Linked DNA regions of Homo sapiens. The protein of the gene in region 7 purifies or fractionates together with the protein of the main gene of each other region. This does not show direct contact. Each region holds a gene or a part of one and is shown on either strand. Other genes may lie near its edges.

What was found.
Region 1: the proteins of DNAAF10 (region 7) and POLR2B purify together in Homo sapiens (affinity purification with mass spectrometry; 3 studies listed by BioGRID and IntAct, with this or other methods). This does not show direct contact.
Region 2: the proteins of DNAAF10 (region 7) and CTU1 purify together in Homo sapiens (affinity purification with mass spectrometry, with the first as the bait; one large-scale study listed by BioGRID). This does not show direct contact.
Region 3: the proteins of DNAAF10 (region 7) and CCT6B purify together in Homo sapiens (affinity purification with mass spectrometry, with the first as the bait; 2 studies listed by BioGRID). This does not show direct contact.
Region 4: the proteins of DNAAF10 (region 7) and RPRD1B purify together in Homo sapiens (affinity purification with mass spectrometry; 2 studies listed by BioGRID and IntAct, with this or other methods). This does not show direct contact.
Region 5: the proteins of DNAAF10 (region 7) and DNAAF2 purify together in Homo sapiens (affinity purification with mass spectrometry; one large-scale study listed by BioGRID and IntAct). This does not show direct contact.
Region 6: the proteins of DNAAF10 (region 7) and POLR1E purify together in Homo sapiens (affinity purification with mass spectrometry, with the first as the bait; one large-scale study listed by BioGRID). This does not show direct contact.

What each region holds. Positions count from the first base shown.
Region 1 is NC_000004.12:57,023,896-57,027,395, reverse strand, and holds part of POLR2B (DNA-directed RNA polymerase II subunit RPB2), read right to left. Parts: intron 3,392-3,500; coding exon 3,284-3,391; intron 2,511-3,283; coding exon 2,397-2,510; intron 2,020-2,396; coding exon 1,859-2,019; intron 1-1,858. UniProt on the Homo sapiens protein: Catalytic core component of RNA polymerase II (Pol II), a DNA-dependent RNA polymerase which synthesizes mRNA precursors and many functional non-coding RNAs using the four ribonucleoside triphosphates as substrates.
Region 2 is NC_000019.10:51,101,910-51,105,409, reverse strand, and holds part of CTU1 (cytoplasmic tRNA 2-thiolation protein 1), read left to right. Parts: intron 1-819; 5' UTR 820-840; coding exon 841-1,348; intron 1,349-3,500.
Region 3 is NC_000017.11:34,930,461-34,933,960, forward strand, and holds part of CCT6B (T-complex protein 1 subunit zeta-2), read right to left. Parts: intron 2,041-3,500; coding exon 1,907-2,040; intron 592-1,906; coding exon 489-591; intron 1-488. UniProt on the Homo sapiens protein: Component of the chaperonin-containing T-complex (TRiC), a molecular chaperone complex that assists the folding of proteins upon ATP hydrolysis.
Region 4 is NC_000020.11:38,040,246-38,043,745, forward strand, and holds part of RPRD1B (regulation of nuclear pre-mRNA domain-containing protein 1B), read left to right. Parts: intron 1-189; coding exon 190-319; intron 320-3,500. UniProt on the Homo sapiens protein: Interacts with phosphorylated C-terminal heptapeptide repeat domain (CTD) of the largest RNA polymerase II subunit POLR2A, and participates in dephosphorylation of the CTD by RPAP2. Transcriptional regulator which enhances expression of CCND1.
Region 5 is NC_000014.9:49,628,745-49,632,244, forward strand, and holds part of DNAAF2 (protein kintoun), read right to left. Parts: intron 1-3,500. UniProt on the Homo sapiens protein: Required for cytoplasmic pre-assembly of axonemal dyneins, thereby playing a central role in motility in cilia and flagella.
Region 6 is NC_000009.12:37,499,448-37,502,947, forward strand, and holds part of POLR1E (DNA-directed RNA polymerase I subunit RPA49), read left to right. Parts: intron 1-1,392; coding exon 1,393-1,474; intron 1,475-2,265; coding exon 2,266-2,397; intron 2,398-3,500. UniProt on the Homo sapiens protein: Component of RNA polymerase I (Pol I), a DNA-dependent RNA polymerase which synthesizes ribosomal RNA precursors using the four ribonucleoside triphosphates as substrates.
Region 7 is NC_000002.12:68,151,028-68,154,527, forward strand, and holds part of DNAAF10 (dynein axonemal assembly factor 10), read right to left. Parts: intron 1-3,500. UniProt on the Homo sapiens protein: Key assembly factor specifically required for the stability of axonemal dynein heavy chains in cytoplasm.

The DNA.
Region 1 (3,500 bases), on a different chromosome or scaffold from region 7:
GTAGAGGCTGCAGTGAGCTGTGATTGTGCCACCACACTCCAGCCTAGGCAACAGGGATGAAACTGTCTCAAAAAAAGGGAAGGGGTGGGCTGGGCGTGGTGGCTCTTGCCTGTAATCCCAGCAATTTGGAAGGCCAAGGCAGGCGGATCACTTGAGGCCAACCATTTGAGACCAGCCTGGGCAAAATGGTGAAACCCTGGCTCTACAAAAAATACAAAAATTAGCTGGGCTTGGTGGCGCACACCTGTAATCCCAGCTACTTGGGAGGCCGAGGCACGAGAATTGCTTGAATCCGGGAGGCGGAGGTTGCCGTGAGCCGAGATCGCACCACTGCACTCCAGCCTGGGTGACAGAGTGAGACTGTCTCACAAAAAAAAAGCCAAAATATTCCTCTCTTTCCAACCACTTATTTGCATGAAATTAGAACTTCCTCATATACTTAAATATAAAAAATAAAATACTACAATGGAATGAATGCAGAAGTAGATGTAAGAATCCAGCTGTTTCTATTAAGCCAGGTCATTAGAGAGATTCGCAAAAATGTAAACCAATGTTATTCTTGTCACTAAATTCATCTGGAAAATAGATATATTTTTCATTAAACATGGTTTTTTGTTTTGTTTTGTTTTGTTATCGAGACAGAGTCTCACTCTGTCGCCCAGGCTGGAGTGCAGTGGCACGATCTTGGCTCACTGCAACCTCCACCTCCTGGGTTCAAGCAATTCTTCCCTCAGGCTCCCGAGTAGCTGGGATTACAGGTGTGAGCCACCACGCCCAGCCAAAACATGTTATTTATGTTAACACGTAATGAGCTTATTAGCATTTTTAAAACAATAAATTTAAAATCTCAGCTTTAACTTCTAATATGATAAATATCAATAAATACAACTCACATAAAACAAAAGCATTTTGGGTTCCCGGGATCAAGACATTTGAGAACCATTGTTTTAAAGATATACACTGAAAAATTTATAGGAGAAATTATATGATGTCTGGGCTTTGCTTAAAAATAATCAAGAGGGCTGGGTGCAGTGGTTCACGCCTGTAATTCCAACACTTTGGAAGGCTGAGGCTAGAGGATTGTGGCCATGAGTTCAAGTCCAGCCTGGGCAACATAGTGAGACCCCCGTCTCTACAAAATTTTTTGTTTTTTGTTTTGAGATGAAGTCTCACTCTGTCACCCAGGCTGGAGCACAGGGGTGTGATCTCGGCTCACTGCAACCTCCGCCTCCCAGGTTCAAGTGATTCTCATGCCTCAGCCTCCCGAGTAGCTGGGATTACAGGTGTGTGCCACCATGCCCGACTAATTTTTTGTATTTTTAGTAGAGACGGTGTTTTGCCATGTTGACCAGGCTGGTCTTGGACTCCTGACCTCAGGTGATCTACCCGTCTTGGCCTCCCAAAGTGCTGGGATTGCAGACATGAGCCATTGCGCCTAGCCTCTACAAAAAAAAAATTTTTTTTTTAAAGGTGTAGTGGCACATGCCTGTAGTTAAAAAAAAGGTTGGAGGACAACCAATAAATTCAAAAAAGGACTTAAGAGACAATATTAATTTAGCTACTTGGGAGGCTAAGGTAGGATTGCTTGTGCCCAGTTCAAGGCTGCAGGGAGCTGTGGGCATGCCACTGCACTCCAGCCTGGGTGACAGAGTGAGACTCTGCCTTTAAAACATGATGATAATATCAAAGGTTAGAAGGACAGAGATGAATGCAACAAGACTGGCCATCAGTCGATAATTGTTGAAATGGGGGTAACAGGCACACAGGCATTCACTATACCACTATCTCCATTTTGGTGTGTTGACATTTTTCATAATATAAGGTTAATTAATAATAATGATGATGATACAGTTCTTACCGAGATCTACCCTCCATGGGCTGTCTATTGAGGATCTGAATAGGTCCCCTAGCACGAGAGTGAATCTTATCATCCACCATATGCTTCAAACGCTGGTAATAAGTGGGGCCAATAAATATTTGTGATGTGATTTTTCGACCAGTGAACCCATTGTACAGGACCTGCAACAAACACAGATTTTGAAGTGTAGACCTAAAAATTAAACAACGTCAAAGAAGATATGTGTATATATTGTGTTACTCCATTTATATAAAAATTAAAGCACAGAACTAATCTATAATGTTAGCAATTAAGAGAGTAATTAGCTTGGGGTGGGAGTGGAAAGGTAGCGACTAAAAAAGGTTCAGTCGCTACCTTCACATTTTTAGATCTTGGTGTTAGTCATGCAGCTGTGTTTACTTTGTGAAAATTCATCAAGCTGTACATTTCTATATGTGCACATATGATACTTCAATAAAAGGTTACATTGTTTCAGAATAAAACTACACACATACAAAAAAAAACAAGTGGCAAATTACTACTATAAGAGCAAATATACCTCATTTCCTCTGAGATGATAGCCATAATCAGATAAAAGATTAGAAATCTTCTGCACGTTAACAGCATCATTAAATGGAGTGGCATCACCAATTTCACCCTTGTTAGCCGATACCTTTTAAAAAAAAAAGTACTCTTTAAAATGTTGCTTCAGTCTGTCTCCCCCTAAAAGTCATATCAATAAAAATGCATTCAAAAAATTTTTAAATACTTTTAAAATTTGAAAGTATTATTTTAAGTATTTTAAAATTCAAAGATTTTGAACTCAAAATCTATGTTATGGAAAGCTGTGATATATAAGGTTCATTTTATAACCTTACACAAAACATTTAGAACAAATAAACTTGCTTAAAAAAGAAAAACTCAATTATAAGTATTCAAATAGAAGTCGATCCATGGGATCAGGTACAAAAAGAGTGAGACTCCTAAGTACTTCAGATGGCTCAAAGGAAAATGACATTTTAATGCCCTAAAACCAAGCCATCCATATGTTAGACTATTACCACTTTACCTTAAAAGAATACTTAAAAATAGAAAACCTCCACCAAAAGATGTATGCAGAGCTGATAATAGAACTATAAAATTATTAAGTTCACATTGAACTCTCCATCAACAAATTAACTGTTCATCTACAGAAAAGAACTAGTCAAAAGGAAAATCACATATGTATTAGTTGAATGTAGTATATCTCACAAAAATTCTGACTTGTCCATAACTTTGCAAATTGCCAAAAAAAATGGCAGAATCATAAGCAATTTGAAAGCAGAAAAGTAAGTCTCACACTAGCTTTTTACAAAGTACCCTGGCTCAAATGTGAGAGCAATCACCTATCAGAGTTTTAGAAGAAGCATCAGCTTAGAATCTATATTTTTGAAGAACATCTCTTACCTTCCCTTGAAGGCATTCAATTAAGTGACCAATAGTCATACGAGAGGGGATGGCATGGGGATTGATGATGATATCAGGGGTGATACCTTCACAGGTGAAAGGCATATCCTACAAAGAAAAATTTTAAAAGGGACTCAAAGATACATATACTAAACTAGAACTGACATTTCAGTTCTCCCAACTGAATTACTGTATGTCCCAAATTCTGTTTAAACAT
Region 2 (3,500 bases), on a different chromosome or scaffold from region 7:
ATGAAGTAGGAAAGATAACAGATGAAGGTCAAAGATGGGCCGATCCATGTCTTGGTGAGAGCACAGAAGCTTGTGGGGCATTCTGATACCAGAGCAGGGTTGAGTTCAATCTTGGAGGCCCACCCATTTTCTCACCCTCAAAATGTGTGCAACCCCAGCTGGTCTCCTGAGAGGTGTGATCCAGGCTGCCTGTGTTCCCTGGAGAAGGTGATCACCCTGCCTTTCATAGGATGCAATCAGAACCCATTCCTGGAGACCGTATCCCACCCTACAAAGTGCAATCAGTTGGCCTTTCCTGTTTTCCACCTCCCGCTGCACAGAGCTTCAGTCCCCTGGCCTCCCTCTGCCCTTAGAGTCAAAAACCCCTCACCTCCCAAGGGCTTTTAACAGCCCTGGTGGCCCAGGCCAATGATACCTACCTTGTCCTGATCAGGACTGTAACAAGGGTGGCCTCCCTGGAGGTTGTGACAAATGGGCCTTAATATACACCCCCATCCCTCTGGAGAGGACACAACCTAATCCTGGGTATAACCTGCTTGTCGCTCCCTCTCTTTACCCATGAAGCCAGCTTCTTAAGCTACTTCTCTTCTTCTTGCATAATGGGTGCAATCCAAGAAGCCTTCCCTAAGGCAGTGGCTTCCTTACACCGGACCTATTTATAACCATCCTATCCCCAGCGCTAGAAGAAGCTACTCCACTCGCGCACACGTCTCCCTGGTCTATTCCGGGCAGAGGTGCAATCCAGACAATCTCCCCGATGGCAGGGACCCTGCAATCCGGAATCCATATGTAACCCACCTCCTCTCTCTCCCTGTCTAGGAGAAGCCGACCCCTCCCGCAATGCCCGCCCCGCCGTGCGCCTCCTGCCATGCTGCACGCGCCGCCCTCCGCCGTCCGCTCTCGGGCCAAGCGCTGTGCGGTGCCTGCTTCTGCGCCGCCTTCGAGGCCGAGGTGCTGCACACGGTGCTCGCCGGCCGCCTGCTGCCGCCCGGCGCGGTGGTGGCCGTGGGCGCCTCGGGCGGCAAGGACTCCACGGTGCTGGCGCACGTGCTGCGCGCGCTGGCGCCGCGCCTGGGCATCTCACTGCAGCTCGTGGCCGTCGATGAGGGCATCGGTGGCTACCGGGACGCGGCGTTGGCGGCCGTGCGGCGCCAGGCGGCGCGCTGGGAGCTGCCGCTCACGGTCGTGGCCTACGAAGACCTCTTTGGGGGCTGGACGATGGACGCCGTGGCCCGCAGCACAGCCGGCTCCGGCCGCAGCCGCTCCTGCTGCACCTTCTGTGGAGTGCTGCGGCGCCGGGCGCTGGAGGAAGGGGCGCGCCGCGTGGGAGCCACGCACATCGTGACAGGTGAGCGTAGTACGGGCCGCAGAGCGGCACTCTCCGAGGCAGTGGGGCGAATGCACAGGCGAGGAGGCGGGACCTGAAAGGGGATTCAGGCGCATGCTCCAGAAGGCGGCGAGGAGACCCTGGTGGCTTAATGGGAGGATCCCTGTACGGAGGTGCGGAAGGGCGCATGCTGCAGTTTGGGGCTGGGGCCCTTTAAAGGTTCAAGACGCTGGGGAGACAGAGGGGCCAGGCAGTGATCACAAAGGTTTTTGGGTCTTGGCCACCGTCTTGGTCTCCACAGATTGCCAAAGGGGTGGGAGGTGAAAATCTCTGGAGATCTCTGGTCCTTTACTTATTTTTAAATGTTTCTAACATGCTTGATCTCTTATGGTCCACCTTTCAGAATCCAGCTCTTTCTCTAAAAAGCATCTCCATCTCTTAATTCCTTTTCTTGGTTGGCCTCTCCTCTTTGATAACTTTTTTTTTTTTTTTTTTTTTGAGACAGAGTCTCGCTCTGTCTCCCAGGCTGGAGTGCAGTGGTGCGATCTCGGCTTACTGCAACCTCTGCCTCCCGGATTCACGCCATTCTCCTGGCTCAGCCTCCCGAGTAGCCGGGGCTACAGGTGCCTGCCACCACGCCCAGCTAATTTTTTGTATTTTTAGTAGAGACGGGGTTTCACCATGTTAGCCAGGATGATCTCGATCTCCTGACCTCGTGATCCACCCACCTCGGCCTCCCAAAGTGCTGGAAGATAACTTTTTTATTCTGTCTTTTTCATCCATTCCTTCAACAAACAGATGCTAAGTTTCTGCTATATGCCGGATCCCAACTGTGGCCATACCAAAGTTCTTAACCACTCTGTACTTCTGTTTCACCCCATCCCTAAAACAGGACTATGAATGGTACCCAGCTCATAAACTTGTTATGACAATTAGATGAGTCAGTAGAAGTATAACGTTATCTATATTATAGTTATGTTACATAACCCGTATGATATAATATAGATTACACATTTTATACATGCTATTATCATCATCATTGTCAGGCTAGGGCTGAGAATACAGTTACGCACAAGTTCCTACCTTTGCATGGTTATCAGGTACAAAATTATAAACATTATACATGTTATTGACCATGTATGGACATGTTATGGACTATGTGTACACACAGAGAACCCTATGACGTGGAGGGAGTGGGGTCAAGGAACGGTTTTGAAATCTGAAGGCTCACAGTGAAGAGGTAAAGCGGGTAAGAATTAGGGAGAGGTTATTGGCCTGTGAAAAGCCAATTTGGGCTGCCCCAAGAAGTCCAGTGTGGCTGGAACCCAGAAAGCAAGGGCAGGGGAGGCTGGAGAGGTGGAAGAGGTCAGGCCTTACCCTGTAGGCTGTGGCGGAACCAGTAAAAGTGACATGAAGAGAGTTTCACTTTGAAAAGCTCACCCAGGCCATGGCGAGGAACCTGGGTTGGAGGGACAGGGACAAAGCCGAGGAGACCAGTCAGTGGGAAGCCAGCTGCGGTGATGGAGGTGAGAGATGATGGTTGGAGAGAATCAGCACACTGAAAGCATATGAAGGCAAAAGTAGTTCTGAGGCTGTCATGTGCCACCATGCTAGGTAGGGCCACTGGCTCTGGGGAAGGCTTACTGAGCTTCATTCACTGATGTGGCCCTTTCCTTACTGAGTAACTTTGGAGAAATCCCTAGATCTCTGTGATTGAAAATGGGAAGAATAATCCTTACCATACAAGAGCAGACAGTGTATGGAAAGAATGAAAGGCTTCGGCCGGGCACAGTGGCTCACACCTGTAATCCCAGCACTTTGGGAGGCTGAGGCAGGCGGAATCACAAGGTCAAACGTTCGAGGCCAGCCTGGCCAACATGGTGAAACCCCGTCTCTACTAAGAATACAAAAATTAGCTGAGTGTGGTGGTGGGCGGCTGTAATCCCAGCTACACGGGAGGCTGAGGCAGGAGAATTGCTTGAACCCGGGAGGCGGAGGTTGCAGTGAGTCGAGATCACGCCACTGCACTCCAGCCTGGGTGACAGAGCAAGATTCCAGCTGGGGGAGAAAAAAAAAGAATGAGAGGCTGCCTCGGATTTTAAAGTTAATTTGATAGAATCACTTATTAATTGTACTTCCAAAAGTAATGAAGCCTTCCAGAAAAATCCCTGAC
Region 3 (3,500 bases), on a different chromosome or scaffold from region 7:
CACTTAACCCCAGTTGCCTACATGGCTAATTTCCTCACTTCCTTCCACTTTTTTTCAACAGACATCTAGATGATGCCTACCCTGACCAACCCTTTAAGCTGTCATTCTCTCTCCACCCTCCTGTACTAGCATTCATGATCATTATTATAGCACTCTTTTTTCCATATAATTCATTACTTTTTCTAAAATGCTGAAGGAGTTTATTTATTAAAGTTATTATTTACTGCCTACCTTCTCCCACTACAACATAAGCTCCCAGGGGCAGATATTTTTGTCTGTTTTGTTCTGTGTGAAGCCCAAGAGGAAAACAAGCACTCAATAACTATTTCTTAAATGAATGAACATTTTTTAAGAAGCTCAAAAATAAACTAAAGGCATCCAAAATTTAAATATTAAAGTTACCCAAACCTCTACTCCTTTACCATAAGATCTGGGTAACTAAAGAATAACCTCTTTATTAAGCAGCTAATTTTCCTTCACTTTCTTACCTGTATTCAAATCTACGCCCACAAGTTGTTTTGACTCGACATGCTCAGCCTGAACTTTTACTAATGTTTCCTGTGGGTCATAACCAGCATTCTGAGCAAGAACCTTTAGGAATAAAAATAATAATATATATTATATATATATGCATAATACCTTCACATATATCAAATATAAAAATACTCTTTACTCTTGTAAAAACACATCCATAACATGGCAATCATCTCCTTTTGAAGAATTCCACTTTTAATCTAAATCAAATTATTATTTCATCTATCTAGTAGTTTTTATATTTACTTAAACATTTCCCCTATGCACGTCACACTAAATTCTGAGGACATCAGAGTTCCCCCATTTTTACCCTACTACATTAATTTCCCTCCTTGCAAAAGGTTTGTTTTGTTTTGTTTTGTTTTTAGTATGGAAGGAAGTAGAATGATATTCTTGTTTCCTCTAGTGCCGCTAGCCACATGCCCTCCAGTTCTTCATAGGCACTTGCTAAGGAAACCAGAATATTTGCAGCACCTTTGTGCCCCTCATCTTCATGAGGAGAGTCACGACCTGTGGTAACAGGGTTGGAGATACCTGCACTCCAAACCAGGCTCACTTCCAAGTGGCCCCAAATCACCAGCTGATGAGGAAAAAGGTACCACCAATGTAATGTGTACTGGGGTTACCAATTTCTGTCAGCAGCAGGATCATACTGACTTTGCTGCTCTGGGGAAAGAAAAAATAGCAAATCTAATTCACAAAGATTTCACAAATTATGAAAAATTTTAATAAAAATTAGCAAAGAGATTTTGCTAACATTGTTAATAATGTTTTAATTCATGGTAATAGCATCTTTGAAGTAGTTTTACTATATTTCTAAGGTGGTTTGAAACCAATTAAGGCAAAGACAAAGGAATGGTCGCTTTCTGTCCTTAGGTTGCCACATGGAAAAATTCTGTTTTCTCTTTTTCTAGGAATTATAATGATGATGACAAATGTAAGGTTGTATCTAGGAGTGCTAAAGAGCCTCAAGCCCTCCCTCTCCACAATTTAAATTGATTACATTTGGATACCACTAACAAAACAAAGATGTACCACAAAATCTAACTAAATTTTAAATTCTAAACTTTTTCATTATGATTAGTTAATCATGAGTCATTTCTGAAGGAAATTTTTGGAGCTGCTTTAATTTTTGGAACTCAGAGAAAGAAGCAAGGGGGTAAGTTGGCTATTTCATGAGATCGTGCAAGGATCCTGGGCTGTTATCGCAAAAGTTTCCCTGCTTTAGTTGTAAAATATCTAAGAGAAAACTGTGTAAGGAAATGCACATAAATACCTGTCTACTCCATTAACTATCAGATAATATGGGCAATTTGTAATTAAACACCTTTATGTCTAAGCAGTTGTTATTTGGCCGAAAGGGTAGTTGTACCTTGGGAATAATGAGTAAGGCATCAGCAAAAGCTTGGACTCCAAGACGAGCTCTTCCTTTTATACTGTTCTTATATGTAACAAGAGCTTCAGCCATTGCCACTTCAATTGCACCAGCTCCAGGAACCATACAACCTATTGGAGAGAAAAAATATGATTGGCAAGACATGCCATAAAGACCAAAAGAGAGAGAGAGACAGAAAAGCAATTCACTATTTAAGTATGTTCTATTATCTACAGAAACCAAATAAATTGCACAGCTTAGTAATTACTCAGTTATCTTATGAAACATCCTGAAGTTATATGTCATTAAATAAATAGGCATAGTACAGATAACTGGCTGCAAACAGCTTATTTTGCTCCTTACCCTCTGGTAAACAAGAATAATTTATTTTTACCTTCATCTTACTCTTTTATAACTACTTTTTTTTTCTGAGATGGAGTTTTACTCCATCACCCAGGCTGTACTGTAGTGGCATGATCTTGACTCACTCCAACCTCTGCCTTCCAGGTTCAAGTGATCCTCCTACCTCAGCCTTCTAAGTAGCTGGAATTACAGGCGTGCACCACCACACCCAGCTAATTTTTGTATTTTTAATAGAGATGGGGTTTCACCACGTTGGCCAGGCTGGTCTTGAACTCCTGACTTCAAGTGATCCACCCACCTCCGTCTCCCAAAATGCTGGGATTACAGGTGTGAGCCACCACACCCGGCCTTATGACTACTTTTAAGAGGTATTTATAATTTATATTGACAGGTAACTGATTACAATATCTGACATGAAAATTCTTTAGACCAAGATCATTTGTCTAGTTTTTGATAGGGAATTCTTGGAACTCAATGAAGTATTTGTTTTTTGTACTGCAGCAGAACTCAAACTGCTATCTAAGAAAAAATTTAAGTGGTATTATTCTAAAGCAAGAGTTTTGGTTAAACACATCAAATTTCACATCAGGATATCACTTTTATATCTGCTACTTGTATGGTTTCATAAAGTTTATGACTCTTATTTAAATCAGAAAACTTGCTTTAAAACAAAACAATACGAAAACAATCTCCCCTTTTATCTCACATCATTTTAAAATTACTACCCCCTTTCACTGCTTCACTTCACAACATAACCGCTCAAAGAGTTGTTTACCCACCAGATGATTACATCATTACCTCCCATTCACATTTTTTAAAAGTTCCTTGTTAAATACAGAATATACTCAAAAGAATATTTATATGTATGATATAAAGAATAAATGCACAAATAAACAAATGTATCCATGTACCTACCACCCAGCTTAAGAAAGAGATTACTAGAACCTTTGAAAACTTCCCTGATCCCATTCTCTGTGAAAACACAACATATCAAAATTTTAGCATCCCTAAAGCAGTACTTAAAGAGAAATTTATATCACGAAACACCTATATTAGGAACGAAGAAAGTTCTCAAACTAATGACCCCAGCTTCCACCTTAAGAAACTAGAAAAGGACAGGGTCTGGTGGCTCGCTCCTATAATCCCAGCACTTTGGGAGGCCAAGGCAGGTAGATCACTTGAGCCCGGAAATTCAAGACCAGCCTGGGCAACACAGTGAGACCCCATC
Region 4 (3,500 bases), on a different chromosome or scaffold from region 7:
TCTTTTTTTTTTTTCCGAAATGGTATTCCCAAACCTATTCCTTAGGTGGTCTTTTTAAACATATCTACTTGACCCCCCAGGTAGATAATACTTGTCTTAATGTTTTTTTAGGAGCAGCCCAGGGCAAAAGAATTGTGAATTGAGAATTTCTTTGGTGTAAGTTAAATTCTTTTCTTTTCTTTTTTTCAGCCAAATCAAATAGAAAGCTTACTTTTCTGTATTTAGCGAATGATGTCATCCAAAACAGTAAAAGGAAAGGACCTGAATTCACTAGAGAATTTGAATCTGTCCTTGTGGATGCTTTTTCTCATGTTGCCAGGTATGTTGTCTGTTTTTTGGATTTGTTTTTAAATTCATTGCCTTTCCCACCTTTTTGTTCTTTCCTTTTCTGTGATAGCCTTTGTAAATTGACAACTTCCTACTTTACAGAGAGTTGTGGAGGCCGAATTGTGGTTTTATGTTTTGTTGAGCCCTCAAGAACTATCGAGACATGTAAACATTCTGATACATTTGAGAGATTCAGCCTAGCATTATCTTTCTTCTAGATATATTCATTTTCATTTTTTGAATTTATTTCTTGGTTATGGTATTTTCCTTGGTTTGGTTGAGTTGTCTCATCAGCTTATGATCAAAAAACAAAGCTAACTAGTAAGGGAACCTTTTAGTAACATAACTTAATAGCAAGAAATTAATTGCCAAATGCCTTCCTTTTTATTTCCTTCTGGATTTCTAGATGTCTAGTTTACTAAAAATAGTAGGCATTACTGTAACTGCAATAATAGTAATTATTAGTGTAGAAAGTAGGTGTTTGCTCTGGCTATATTGTATTAAGCCTGGTGCTGTTGTGTTTTGTGGCAGAGAGGAGTGGCACTCATACAACTAATACCATAGAAAGCATACATTGGATTAAAAGTTTTATAAATTACTTTACTTCATGTAAAAACAAAAGCTTTCTGTGGGCTTAAATTAGGTGCCCAGGAAAAGCAAAGAAAAACTATCGTTCATTAGAATATTATGTTTATAAGTAAATATATAAACAGATATTTGCAAAAGGAATTGGGAAACATGAATGGGAGACTAGTAGGTTAAACATAAATTGTTACTAGGTCTAAAATATAGTGAAAGGCCTTAAATGAGAAATGAAGTCCTGCTTTCATTGCAGGATTTGAAAAGTTTGAAGGAATAAAATTAGAAATCCAAGAGAAAGAAATGACACCTAGCTTTCTAGAGATGAAAAAGATGGTTTTTGTGGATAAGTTACATAACTGGCTCACCTTTTGATCAACATGGGCGCAAGTAGCAAAATGTGTTATTAACTTGAAAAAAATACTGAATCTTCATAACAGAGTAAGCTTAGAACAGACTACTAGAGGAGCTATCTGAAATAGACAGATTTTCTTGCTTTGATGAGATTTAGTTCACAGTTGCTTAGAAATTGATGGTAGCTCTGCCTCAGACACTATGTGAGTGACCTTGGATGTGTTACTTAACTTTTTGAGCCCAAATTTCCTAACTGGCTAAAGGGGGAGGATACCACTCCCCCTCATAAGAGTTGTGAGGGTAAAGACAGACAATATGTTTAAAAGTATGTAGTACAATGCCTGTTCCACATTTGCTCATTCATTGGATCATTTGTTTTTTCCTATATTCCAGGCACCTAGTAAAGTGTCTGGCACAGAGCTGCTGAGTTATGTAGCTTGAAGGAATACCATTTATATAGCCTCCATGTAAGTGGTGTCCCAGGAGCTGGGCAACATTATGGTCTGCCCTGACACAGTAGGCGTTCAGTAAATATTTGTTAAATGAGTTAATTAATGTTAACTCATTATGGAAGAGATTTGGTCTAGGGAGTTGGCTGGAATGATTTCTTGTAGGGATAGTAAACATAACAGTGTTATTAAAAAATTCCAGCCTGGGCAGCATAGTGAGACCCTGTGTCTACAAAAAATTTTTTAAAAATTAGCCAGGCATGGTGGTGTGCACCTGTAGTCCTAGCTACTTGGGAGGCTGAGGCAGGGGGATTGCTTGAGCCCAGGAGTTCAAAGCTGTAGTGAGCTATAATCATACCACTGCACTCCAGGTTTAGCAACAGAGCATGACCCTGTCTCTAAATTACAAACAGACAAACGATCTGTAATCTTTAGCTGTCCTGAAACCAAAAAGTAAATAGAAAGGGGTGGAAAAGGGGGTGGGCAACACCAGGGTTAAAAATTCCTTTTTTCTTGGGAACACCTTAAAAACTAGCCAGGTTTTAGGTGTCTTGGCAGATTCAGTGGCAGTGTGAGGAAGATAAACCTGGTCCTTCTCAATAAAATAGCCCGAATTCCTTTCTGTTTGCATTCTGGTTCTTTTAAGATTCTGCTTGGGTATTACATTCAGGATACCCATGTTTCCAATCTCCTTTCTTATACCCCATTATTGGGACAGAAAGTCCAACAGTTCTGCTTCAACCGTGATGCAGCTCGTCCACAGTAGGAGTAGCCTAATTAACATATACTTTCTGTGTGCTTTTTCTGTGGTCAGTTGATGAACAAAGATAGTTGACCCATTACTGTTGACTAAATTGATGAGGGATATTTTTATGATAAAAGACACCTCCACACCCAAAACAAACAAACAGTAAAAAAAACTCTCAAGTCAGAGAAAGCTGCCAAGTTCATAGGATAGATTTGATTTGAATAGCAGTTTAATTAACCAGACTGCAAACTTGCTTTTCATACAAGTGCCTTGTTTTCTTCCCAGTGAGGAGACAGCTGTCCATGTCATTTTTCATTCAACATGTATTGGAGTGCCTTCTATGTGCCAAGTATGGATCCAGACACGGGGGGAGCAGCAGTGAACAAGGCAGGCAAAGACAATTAAATGAGCAAGATACTTTCAGAGCAGGACAATATGGACATAGTAAAATGGAGTGATGTTCTAGAGTAGGATCTCACAGGTAGTGTGGTTCAGGAAGGCCTCTAAGGAAATGACATTTGCGGTAATCATGCGAAGCGGGAGCAGCTATTAAGAAAAACTTAAGGCAGAGATCATCTTGGCCTTCTAAGAGAAACAGAATGAAGGCTGGTGTGGTTAGAATATAGTGCACAAAGGGAAAAGTGATATCCAGATGAGGTCCGAGAGGTGGACATGCAGCAGTCACATACACCCTGTAAGTCTTGGAAGTTAGGATTTTTTTCTCATGGGATGTCATTGAAGAGTTTTAACCAGGGGAATGATATATTCCAATATATTCCAACATACATTTTTAAAACATCCCTCTTTAAAAATGGCTTAGTGTAGAGGGATGGATTGTAAAGGCCAAGGGAGGGGCGGGGACATGAGTTTGGAGGATATTGCTGTGATGCAGGCTAGAGGTGACATTGCCTAGGACTCAGAAGCAATGGGAAGATACTAATAGCTTCCATTTATTGAGTGCTTCCTTCGTGGGAGGATCCCCACCTCTCCAGTGTAAAACTGATAGGATTTATAGGCGTTGAGTGGGAGCTGGTAGTAAGTGA
Region 5 (3,500 bases), on a different chromosome or scaffold from region 7:
ACAGCTGGCCTCTTTTAGTATTTCAGAAGAATAACATCATCTCTAGGGCTATAAATGGGATCCCAGATACAAAATATAATTCAGCTTTAAAACATTTCCTAATGAGGTGGCTAAGAAATATACATGAAAAGATCTATTCAAATTTTGTGTGACCTTTTAGTTCTTGGGCAGGTAAGAGCCAATTACAGTATTTTATTTCAAATAAGTGGTGTGTTTTTTTGTTTGATTTTGTTTTTGAGACAGAGTCTTGCTCTGTCTCCCAGGCTGGAGTGCAGTGGCATAATCACGGCTCGCTGCAGCCTTGACCTCCCAGGCTCAAGTGATCCTCCCGCCTCAGCCTCTACAGTAGCTGGGACCACAGAACATGCCACCACTCTCGGCTAAGTTTTGCATTTTTTTGTAGAGACAGGGTTTTGCCCTGTTGCACAGGCTGGCCTCAAACTTCTGCACTCAAGTGATCCACCTGCTTTGGCCTCCCAAAGTGCTGGGATTACAGGCGTGAGCCACCACCACACCCAGCCCCCGCCCCCCTTTTTTTCTTTTTTTTGCCTTGAGACAGGGTCTCACTTTGTTGCCCAGGCTGGAATGCAGTCGCACACTCATAGCCCCCTGCAGCCTTGACCTCCCTGGCTCAAGCAATCCTCCACCTGTGCCCCCAAGTGCCTGGGTACCTGGGACTACAGGTGCATGCCATAATGCCCAGCTAATTTTTACATTTTTGGGGCCTGGTGTGGCAGCTAACGCCTGTAATTCCAGCACTTTGGGAGGCCAAGGTGGGTGGATCACTTCAGGTCAGGAATTCGAGACCAGCCTGGCCAACATAGTGAAACCCTGTCTCTACTAAAACTGCAATCACGTGAACCCGTGAGGCGGAGATTGCAGTGAGTCCAGCCTGGGCGACAGAGTGAGACTCTGTCTCAAAAAAAAAAATTTGACATTTTTTGTAGATACAGGTCTCACTTTGTTGTCCAGGCTGGTCTCCAACTCCTGGATTCAAGCTGTCCTCCTACCTTGGCCTACCAAAGTGCTGGGATTACGGGCGTGAGCCACTGCACCCAGCCAAGTGTATTATATTTTTAAGCACTGGGATACTCCAGCGTAACATTAGCAAACTGTATAGTTATTAAAAGAATGAAGTAGAGAGCATATATTCAGGGCATTTTGAATCTATGCTCCAGAGAAAAAGTAAATTATGAAAAAAATTAGGCTGGGCACAGTGGCTCATGCTTATAATTCCAGCACTTTAGGAGGCCAAGGCAGGTGGATTGTTTGAGCCCAGAAGTTCGAGACCAGCCTAGGCAACATGGCAAAACTCATCTCTACAAAAAATACAAAAATTAGCCGGGAGTGGTAGCATGCACCTGTGGTCCTAGCTACTCCAGAGGCTAAGGTGGGATGATCGCTTGAGTCTGGGAGGTTGAGGCTGCAGTGAGCCATGATCGCACCACTGCACTCCAGCCTGGGTGAGACAGAGCGAGACTCTGTCTCCCAAATAAATAAATAAATAAATAAATAATGAGGTAGATTTCAAGATGCTGACATGAAAAGATTTCTAAACTATTACTAGAAAATGCAAAAATCACCTTTTACCTGAATCCCAAACACAAAGCAGTTTGTTCATGTCAAGTGAATACAGGTGTATAGTTAGGGTGTGGGGAGAATAACCATATTAACCATATTTTAAATTAATTTATAAAAGCAGTTCATTGTTGCCCCAAATAAAAATGTTTTCCTCTGTAGTTTTATATAAGCAAATTTTGTAATTACAAAATAAACACAGCTCATTATTTGGTCCAAATAGGTGGAAAATATCAGAAAGAAACAAGTTTCAAGTTTCTTGAACTTGGGAACATATATTCAGGGCAACTTGAATATGTGTTTCCCAGGTTGCAGTCCTCTATTTTGGCCCAAATAAACTCTCTCTCCACACACACACACACACACACACACACACACATAAACTCTCTACACACACACACACACACACAAACTCTCTACACACACACACACACTTTTTTTTTTTTTGAGAAAGAGTCTCACTCTGTCACCAGGCTGGAGTACAACTGCGTGATCTCAGCTCACTGCAACCTCCACCTCCCGGGTTCAAGCAATTCTCCTGCCTCAGCCTCCCAAGTAGCTGGGACTGCAGGCGTGCACCACCACGCCCAGCTAATTTTTGTATTTTTAGTAGAGACAGGGTTTCACCTTGTTGGCCAGGATGGTCTCAATCTCCTGACCTCGTGATCTGCCTGCTTCAGTCTCCCAAAGTTCCGGGGCTACAGGTGTGAGCCACCACGCCTGGCTACGTATTTTTCTTCCATTAAACAGTATTTAAAATCGTGAAAACCTACCAAACAAAAGTGAACCTTGGGAATAGAAAAATTTTACATTTAGAGTAACTGGCTTTGCTATTATTTGAAGATCCAGAATAACACAGTGTTACAGAAACATCCCCATCGAAAGCATTTCTAAGGTTCATGCCTCTGGGAAAAGACATCATCTTTGACTCCTTGCAAATAATACACCAAATATTTTAATTTTTAGTTATCCGAAGGAATATATAGTGGACATGGTTATGATTAAAATACAGAAGATTTGCAGCCGGGCGCGGTGGCTCATGCCTGTAATCCCAGCACTTTGGGAGGCCGAGGCGGGTGGATCACGAGGTCAGGAGATCAAGACCATCCTGGCTAACACGGTGAAACCCCATCTCTATTAAAAATACAAAAAATTAGCCTGGCGTGGTGGCAGGTGCCTGTAGGCCCAGCTACTCGGGAGGCTGAGGCAGGAGAATGGCGTGAACCCGGGAGGTGGAGCTTGCAGTGAGTGAGCCGCCCCACTGCACTCCAGTCTGGGCGACGGTGCAAGACTCCATCTCAAAAAACAACCAGAAGATTTGCATAAACTTGCCTTCTCAGTCTAATGACTGATTAAATGACTAATGAACTGAAAAAGTTACTGACCTCAGAGGCTCTGAAGATTTAGGAAAATTGTCAGTAAACACTGAAAACTTCAATACATATATTTAGTATTTATTTGTAAAGTTCTGACCTTGAAAGCCACATAACAGTCTCTTTATGATTATTTTCATGTAATGCATATAATATTATCATTATATATGTTCCACTACTCATGATTTTTTTCCAAAAATTTAACACTGAGAGCCTGGTCCAGTACAAAGTAAAGCAAAAGAGTTACATGCTGTTGTTCCATCAGCTTTAGAAAAATGTGATGATTAGTGAAGTAATTACAAATCTATTTCAGGCTTCAAAGATATAAAATACAGTTGCCCTAATCCCATTTTCGTCGTTTATTTTCTAAAATGTTAGCATACTTGAAAATCGGATTAAAATGTATTATTGAATATTTTCTTAATTGCTTGTCTACAAAGTTTTCTTCCCACATTGTGGGTTATTTTCATATTTACTAAAACTGTTACAGGAAAACAACTGCCCTTTCCTAAATGTCCCACTTCTGATGACAAAAACAGATACTCAGTT
Region 6 (3,500 bases), on a different chromosome or scaffold from region 7:
GGCCTGTCATTGACCAAAACACTGTAATGTGGGACATGACTGTATTTGCTTAGTCATGCTTTTTTTGTTGTTTTTTTGTTTTGTTTTTGTTTTGTTTTTTTTGAGACAGTATCTCGCTCTGTCACCCAGACTGGAGTGCAGTCCCATGATCTTGGCTCACTACAACCTCCATCTCCTGGGTTCAAGCAATTCTGCCTCAGCCTCCCGAGTAGCTGGGATTACAGGCGGGCACCACCACGCCCAGCTAATTTTTGTGTTTTTAGTAGAGACGGGGTTTTTCCATGTTGGCCAGGCTGGTCTCGAACACCTGACCTCAGGTGATCCACCCTCCTTGGCCTCCCACAATGCTGGCTGGGATTACAGGCGTGAGCTACTGCACCCAGCTTGTATTTGCTTAGTTCTTTTTTTTTTTTCTTTTTTTGAGACAGAGTCTCGCTCTGTCGCCCAGGCTGGAGTGCAGTGGCTCGATCTCGGCTCCCTGCAACCTCCACCTACTGGGTTCAAGGGATTCTCCTGCCTCAGCCTCCTGAGTAGCTGGGATTATAGGCGCCCGCCACCACACCCGGCTAATTTTTGTATTTTTAGTAGAGACGGGGTTTCACCATGTTGGTCAGGCTGGTCTCGAACTCCTCACCTCATGATCTGCCTGCCTTGGTCTCCTAAAGTGCTGGGGTTACAAGTGTGAGCCACTATGCCCAGCCAGTTGTTTTTTGTTTTGTTTTGTTTTGTTTTGTTTTGTTTTGTTTTGTTTTTTTGAGATGGAGTCTCACTCTATTGCCCAGGCTAGGGTGCAGTGGCGCAATCTTGGCCCACTGCAACCTCTGCCTCCTGGGTTCAAGCAATTGTCCTGCCTCAGCCTCCCAAGTAGCTGGGATTAGAGGTTTGCGCCACCATACCTGGCTAATTTTTGTGTTTTTAGTAGAGATGGGGTTTCACCATGTTGGTCAGGCTGGTCTTGAACTCCTGACCTCAGGTGTTCTGCCTGCCTCGGCCTCCCAAAGTGTTGGGATTACAGGCGTGAGCCACCGCGCCTGGCCACTTAGTTCTTATTTTCACATTCCAATTCCACCTTTCCCCCTCTCTCCCTGAGCTTTCAGCACAATTTTTGTTTTCTAAGGTCATGTTAACTCTGGGTCCTTAGGCCTCAGGCTGTGTTTTCTTGTCATTGCCCCATCACCAGCATCTCTCGTGCAGGGCAAACTGCAGGCTGCAGCACACCAAGCATGTTTTCATTTTGATGTGGCTGTTCTGCTTTGTGTGGGCCCTGCTTCTCTTACCACCTGGTTCTGGTCATTGCAGTGGCCCAGCTGTTGGCCTTTTCTCTTAGCTCATGGTTGAGGTGTGGCCTGAGGGTTTTGAGAGAAAATGATCAAACTCAACTTTGTGTTGTAGGTGCTCTGGGACCTGGAGTTCCCCACATCATCAACACCAAACTGCTGAAGCACTTTACTTGCTTGACCTACAACAATGGCAGGTCAGGGGGTGGTTGCTGGGATTTTTCTTGTGCAGGAGAAAGTAGGTGGGGGTTGGGAGTGAGGAGCAGGGGCTTGGACTCAATTCCATGTCCACGGAGATGCAGTGCTGAAAAGACTGCTGCCATTTGGAAGGCTCCTGGGGCCCCAGTAAGTTTAGCAAATGCTAAATATGACATACTCTGCCCTTCTTAGAAAAGTATTACCTTTTGGGAACCTTAGAAGCTCTGGGAAGTCCTACAATAAAGACTTGTTTTACTTCACATACTTTTGAATAGCCCTTCCCGATGTCTCACAGAGCTGGTGTTCTGCGGAAAGGCAGCATTGCAGAAAAGGGCAGCCCAACTCGGTGACTCTGGGGAAAGACCCGCAGGCCCTGCCCCTGGGCTTCCTTCCTGCCATTTGCATGGCGTGTGTTTTCTGCTCTTGAGTGTGCTTGGAAGAATCAGCACAGCTGATTTCGGGATGATTGTTTTCCCAGCAGCCCTGCTGGGCAGGCGGGGACAGACTCACAGGGCCCTCACCAGCTCAAAGCGCTAGCAGTGCCCAGGTAGAGTGTAGGCCCAGCTTTCTCTATCTGCCTCAGAGGGAAACATGGACTGGCACACTGCTCCACTGTGTGTGAGGCCCAGGAACCTTGGAAGGGCAAAGTCACCCACATTCCTTTTCCTTTCCTGAAGTTGGGAAGACATTCCGTGCATATGAGAATAGGATTGGATGTTCTTATTTTGCTTTTGGAGAAATTGTCTGAGAGTTTAATTTTGTTTCTCCTTTATTGCCACTGATTTTCTAGATTACGGAACTTAATTTCGGATTCTATGAAGGCGAAGATTACTGCATATGTGATCATACTTGCCTTGCACATACATGACTTCCAAATTGACCTGACAGTGTTACAGAGGGACTTGAAGCTCAGTGAGAAAAGGTGAGCACAACAGAATAAAGAGCTCCCTGCAGGGTGTCTCGATGTCTTATTTCTGGTACCACTGGAAAGCATGAGGCACCACCAAGGGAACTGAGGATGTTTAAATGTGGGAACAACTTGGAACTAAAGGACTATTTTCAATGAATGAATCATTGACTGAATGAGCAACTAGACATTACTGAGTGCCTTCTCTGTGCTAGATAAATTATGTCATTATCTCACTGATTTCCCTAGAAAACAATTGAAGAATCAGGCTCAGAAAAGTACGTAACATTCTCAAGGTTACACAACCAAGAGGGGAGTAGTTGGCCTTGAGACCTGAGCCTTTCCATAACATTCTGTTCTGAATAACCAGGCAGCCTCCATTCTCTGAATTGCTGTCACAGGGGAGAGGGATTCTGTATGGTTCTGAGGAGTGCAGCTCAGGGTGGAAGTTGTAGGACAACCCAATTTGAGCTTAGTAAGAAGAGCTTCCTCACAATCAGATGGAAGGGTTTGCCAGGGGAACCGCTGGTTCCAAGGCCAGGTGGAACTGCTGTTTGGCAGGGATTTTATGTTTGCACTTCTCTGACCCAACTGGGAGAGCTGGTGGTGGAGGTGACCTTTTAGGCTCCATCTAGCCTTGTAGAGGAGATTCAGACAGTAGGGGCAGAGCTGCCCAGGAACCTGAACTGTGAGGTCAGCTGATCTTTGTCAGTGATTTAGGGGCATCTGACATCCAGTGGCCCAGAGGGTGTCTAGGAGAGCCTGTGAACACACCTCTGTCTGGACTCTCTAGCAGTCCGTGGAGGGACTGTTCTGAGGGCTGTCCACAAACTGTGTTCCCACAGGCAGTGAGGCTGAAAAAAAGAGAACAGGTACTTGGAACCTGTCAGATTCTAGCAAGTGCTCAATCCTGGTTGCTAAAAGTTTGGTTATGGGAGGTAAAGAAAGTTGCTCACGGGGCTGTAGATACCCTGGTTTTTCATCACCCATATGGATCTTTTGAAGGGCATTAAAATGAAATTGGCTGTCTGATGGTTCCCAGCGGGTGAGGGGACCTTGCCTGCCTCTCTGCCAGGGGCTTTGTGCCTGCTGGCAACCTTTGGGATTCTGTCTTTATG
Region 7 (3,500 bases):
CACAATAAGCTCTATACATTTTCACAGTTGTCATTGCATCCCTTCTAAAAGTATGTCTTTATTACAAATATAAAGGAAAGAAGTAAAATGTATCTACATTGAGAAGCACAGACTCACAAGAGTGGCATGAAGGCCTATGGTATACAAAATGCAAAAAGTCCTTTGGGATCTGGTCTTGTGTGTGTGACTTCATTTCCTGTTTCCTGCCTTCTCTACTAATTCCAGCCACACCAGACAGCTTGCTTTTTGTTCTTCATACTTGTCAAGGTCTCTTCCACTTGGGCCATTTGAATTTGCTGTTCCCACTGCTTGGACTACTTTTCCCCAGGTCACCATGCCTCTATCCTTCTCTTCATTCAGATTTCAGTTCAAATGCCACATTCCCAAAGAGGTCTTCCTTGTCCCTCCAATCTGAAAAACCCCTAAATTACTGTCACTCACCCTGTTTAATCATCCATTATACTTATCAACAAAATTATTTTATTCATGCAATTATGTCCCCCTTTCTAGAATGTGAGCACCATGAGAGCAGGGCCTTGCCTAATTTTTTTAACGCATAGCAGGCATTCAACATTTGTTGAATGAAGGTATAAATGACCATCCATGAATCTCTCAGCCCTAACACTAGGGACAGACAAACCAGGGCTGGAGTTCACTTTCTTTGCTCTCTCTTTTCTCCTACCATACTTTCATGTGCCAGGGTTCTGACAAACTGTTCAGTTTCTGGTGTCATTGACATGCAATCATGAAAATAGCAACCATCTATTGAACACCTACATTTCAGATACATTTTAGATATTCTTCCAGTCTAGACCATCCCTTTTCTAATATATACAACACTGCAAACTAAGTGTTCAGAACACCACTTTCAAGATGACGAAACAGGTTCAGAGGACTGAGTGACTTGCCTAAGGTCCCAAGAGCCAGATACAATCCAGACTTTTTCCTCTAAACTAGGCTGCCTCCAGGCTTATATGTAAATCAATTAAATAAACATTTTATTATTGGAGTCCTCATTCTGTAAACCTGAGCGTTATTGGAAGTATCAAAGAAATGTTCCGATCTTGATTGCTGAGGTAAATGGCACAACGGCATGAATTAAACCTACTTTCAGATCTCTGCCCTTTGGTTTTTACCTTCATTCATGTCTTTACAAGATATAAATATATGATATTATGCTTCCCTCATGTTCTTTGTCCTTTTCTTAAAGAAACACAAAGATATTTATGGTCATTAGTGGTCTGCTGTGCAAGAACCAAATTAAACTCAAACTGTATATCTTCAACGTATTAAACGTATTATGAACATATTAAACGTATTAAAACTTATCATTTGTGTGCACTGAGGACTGCACTTTGCTCAGAAGGGCCGAGCTCTGTTGGCAAACTGACTTACAAAAGTGGCCATGTTTCCTCTTTCCTCAGACATTCATGGAAATAATAATAATAGCTAAATTAAGAGGACACTAGTGAAGCTAATTTTTCATAGTTCACAAACGGGTTCCCTCTCTGCCCCATTAGATAGTTTATCTACAGAAAAGAAAAGATGAAAAGAAGTTGGTGGTAAATCAAAATTTTTCTTGCTGGAAAACTAGCTGGCAAAAAAAAAAGCAGCTCTATCTTGCAAAAATTGTTCAACAAAGAAAATCAATATATACTAACAATTTTTGCTATGTGATACTGAAAATGGCCATCAATGATGGTCATAATTGACCTAACTGTTCACTTTCTTGCTATAAGAAGTTAAAATGATTAAAGAAGCTCAAGATCAGTAATTCCTGTGTGAGCTATTTTTGTTCTGCATGTGGGTGGGTCTAGTACAGCTTGTCAGTATTTCCTCCTCCACATCCTGGCAATACTTAATTAACATTAAAAGATCTAGCCAACCAAATGCTAACAAGCAGTAAATTCGGTAGCACAGGGGCTAAAAAAGCAGAATTTTATTAGCTTATTGCTATTTTTTTTAATATAAACATCTACAACTGTGTTTCCATTTTTCAGGGCCATCCCTAGTCCATATGGTATCTTTGTGCCAATGAGAAAAAAGTTGCCTTTTATAGGCTGATGAAGTCTCACACATGTAAGGCTTGATGAAGGAAAAAGAGCTTTTAGCTCCCACTTGAGCACTCAGCCAGACACCTTTGTGTGGTGCAAAAAACTGCTCAACTGAACACGGAGGCCCTGCCCTCCATTCCCTATCTATCCTTTTAGAACTAAGATAAAGAAGACTTCAACAAAGACTGATATGCTGATATGCTTCCTTTACATCTTTTCTTCTTAGATGCACGGGCTTTGTGAGCTCCAAGTCAGTGATAAATTAAAAAAAAAAAAAAAAAAAAAAGAACGATGCATGAGTTTTGGAGCACATGACTTAAGGGTAGATCTACGATGATACATCAAGTCTGTTTCCTAATATTTTAATAAATGACCCATCTAGCTCAATGGTTCTCAGCTCTGAGACTCATTAAAATCACCTTGCGGAAGTTTAAAAATACTCTGATTTCTAAACCTTACTCCAGATGCAACAAAGTTGTACTACTGTGTCAGAATTTCTAGGGGTGGGACCAAGGCACAAATGTTTTAAAACACACACACACAAGCCACAAAATGCACTCAAATGATCCTGATGCACAGTAAGGAGTGGGAGTTACTGGACCAGTATTTAACCTATATTTAAAAATTTTTTTCCATTGCACCAGAACAGCCAAACACAATGAAGTTTTTTTTTTTTTTTTTTTTTTTTGGAGACAGAGTCTTCCTCTGTCTTCAGGCTGGAGTGCAATGGCGCGATCTCGGCTCACTGCAACTTCTGCCTCCCGGGTTCAAGTGATTCTCGTGCCTCAGCCTCCTGAGTAGCTGGGTTTACAGGCACGCACCTGACCACGCCCAGCTAATTTTTGTATTTTTTAGTAGAGATGGGGTTTCACCATGTTGGCCAGGATGGTCTTGCTCTCCTGACCTTGTGATCCCCCCGCCTCGGCCTCTCAAAGTGCAGGGATTACAGGTGTGAGCACCGCGCCCAGCCCAGTGTAAGTTCTTAAAGGTATTTTTGTATTAGTTTTACCCTCTTTTTGGACAGTAGGCTCTTTAGGAGAAAGGACTCAACTTTTAAATCTCTTCGGTCCTTGTTAAACACAGTACCTTGAAATAGTGTGTTCTCAGACAACTCATGGTAGAAAAAAAGAATATCCAAAGGATTCAGGTGAAAATATACTTCTTTTTTCTTTTTTTATTTTTTGAGACGGAGTCTTGCTCTGTCACCCACGCTGGAGTGCAGTGGCGCGATCTCGGCTCACTGCAAGCTCTGCCTCCCAGGTTGAAGCCATTCTCCTGCCTCAGCCTCCTGAGTAGCTGGGACTACAGGCGCCCGCCACCACGCCCGGCTGATTTTTTGTATTTTTAGTAGAGACGGGGTTTCACCGTGTTAGCCAGGATGATCTCGATCTCCTGACCTCATGATCCACCCGCCTCGGCCTCCCAAAGTGCTGGGATTACAGGCGT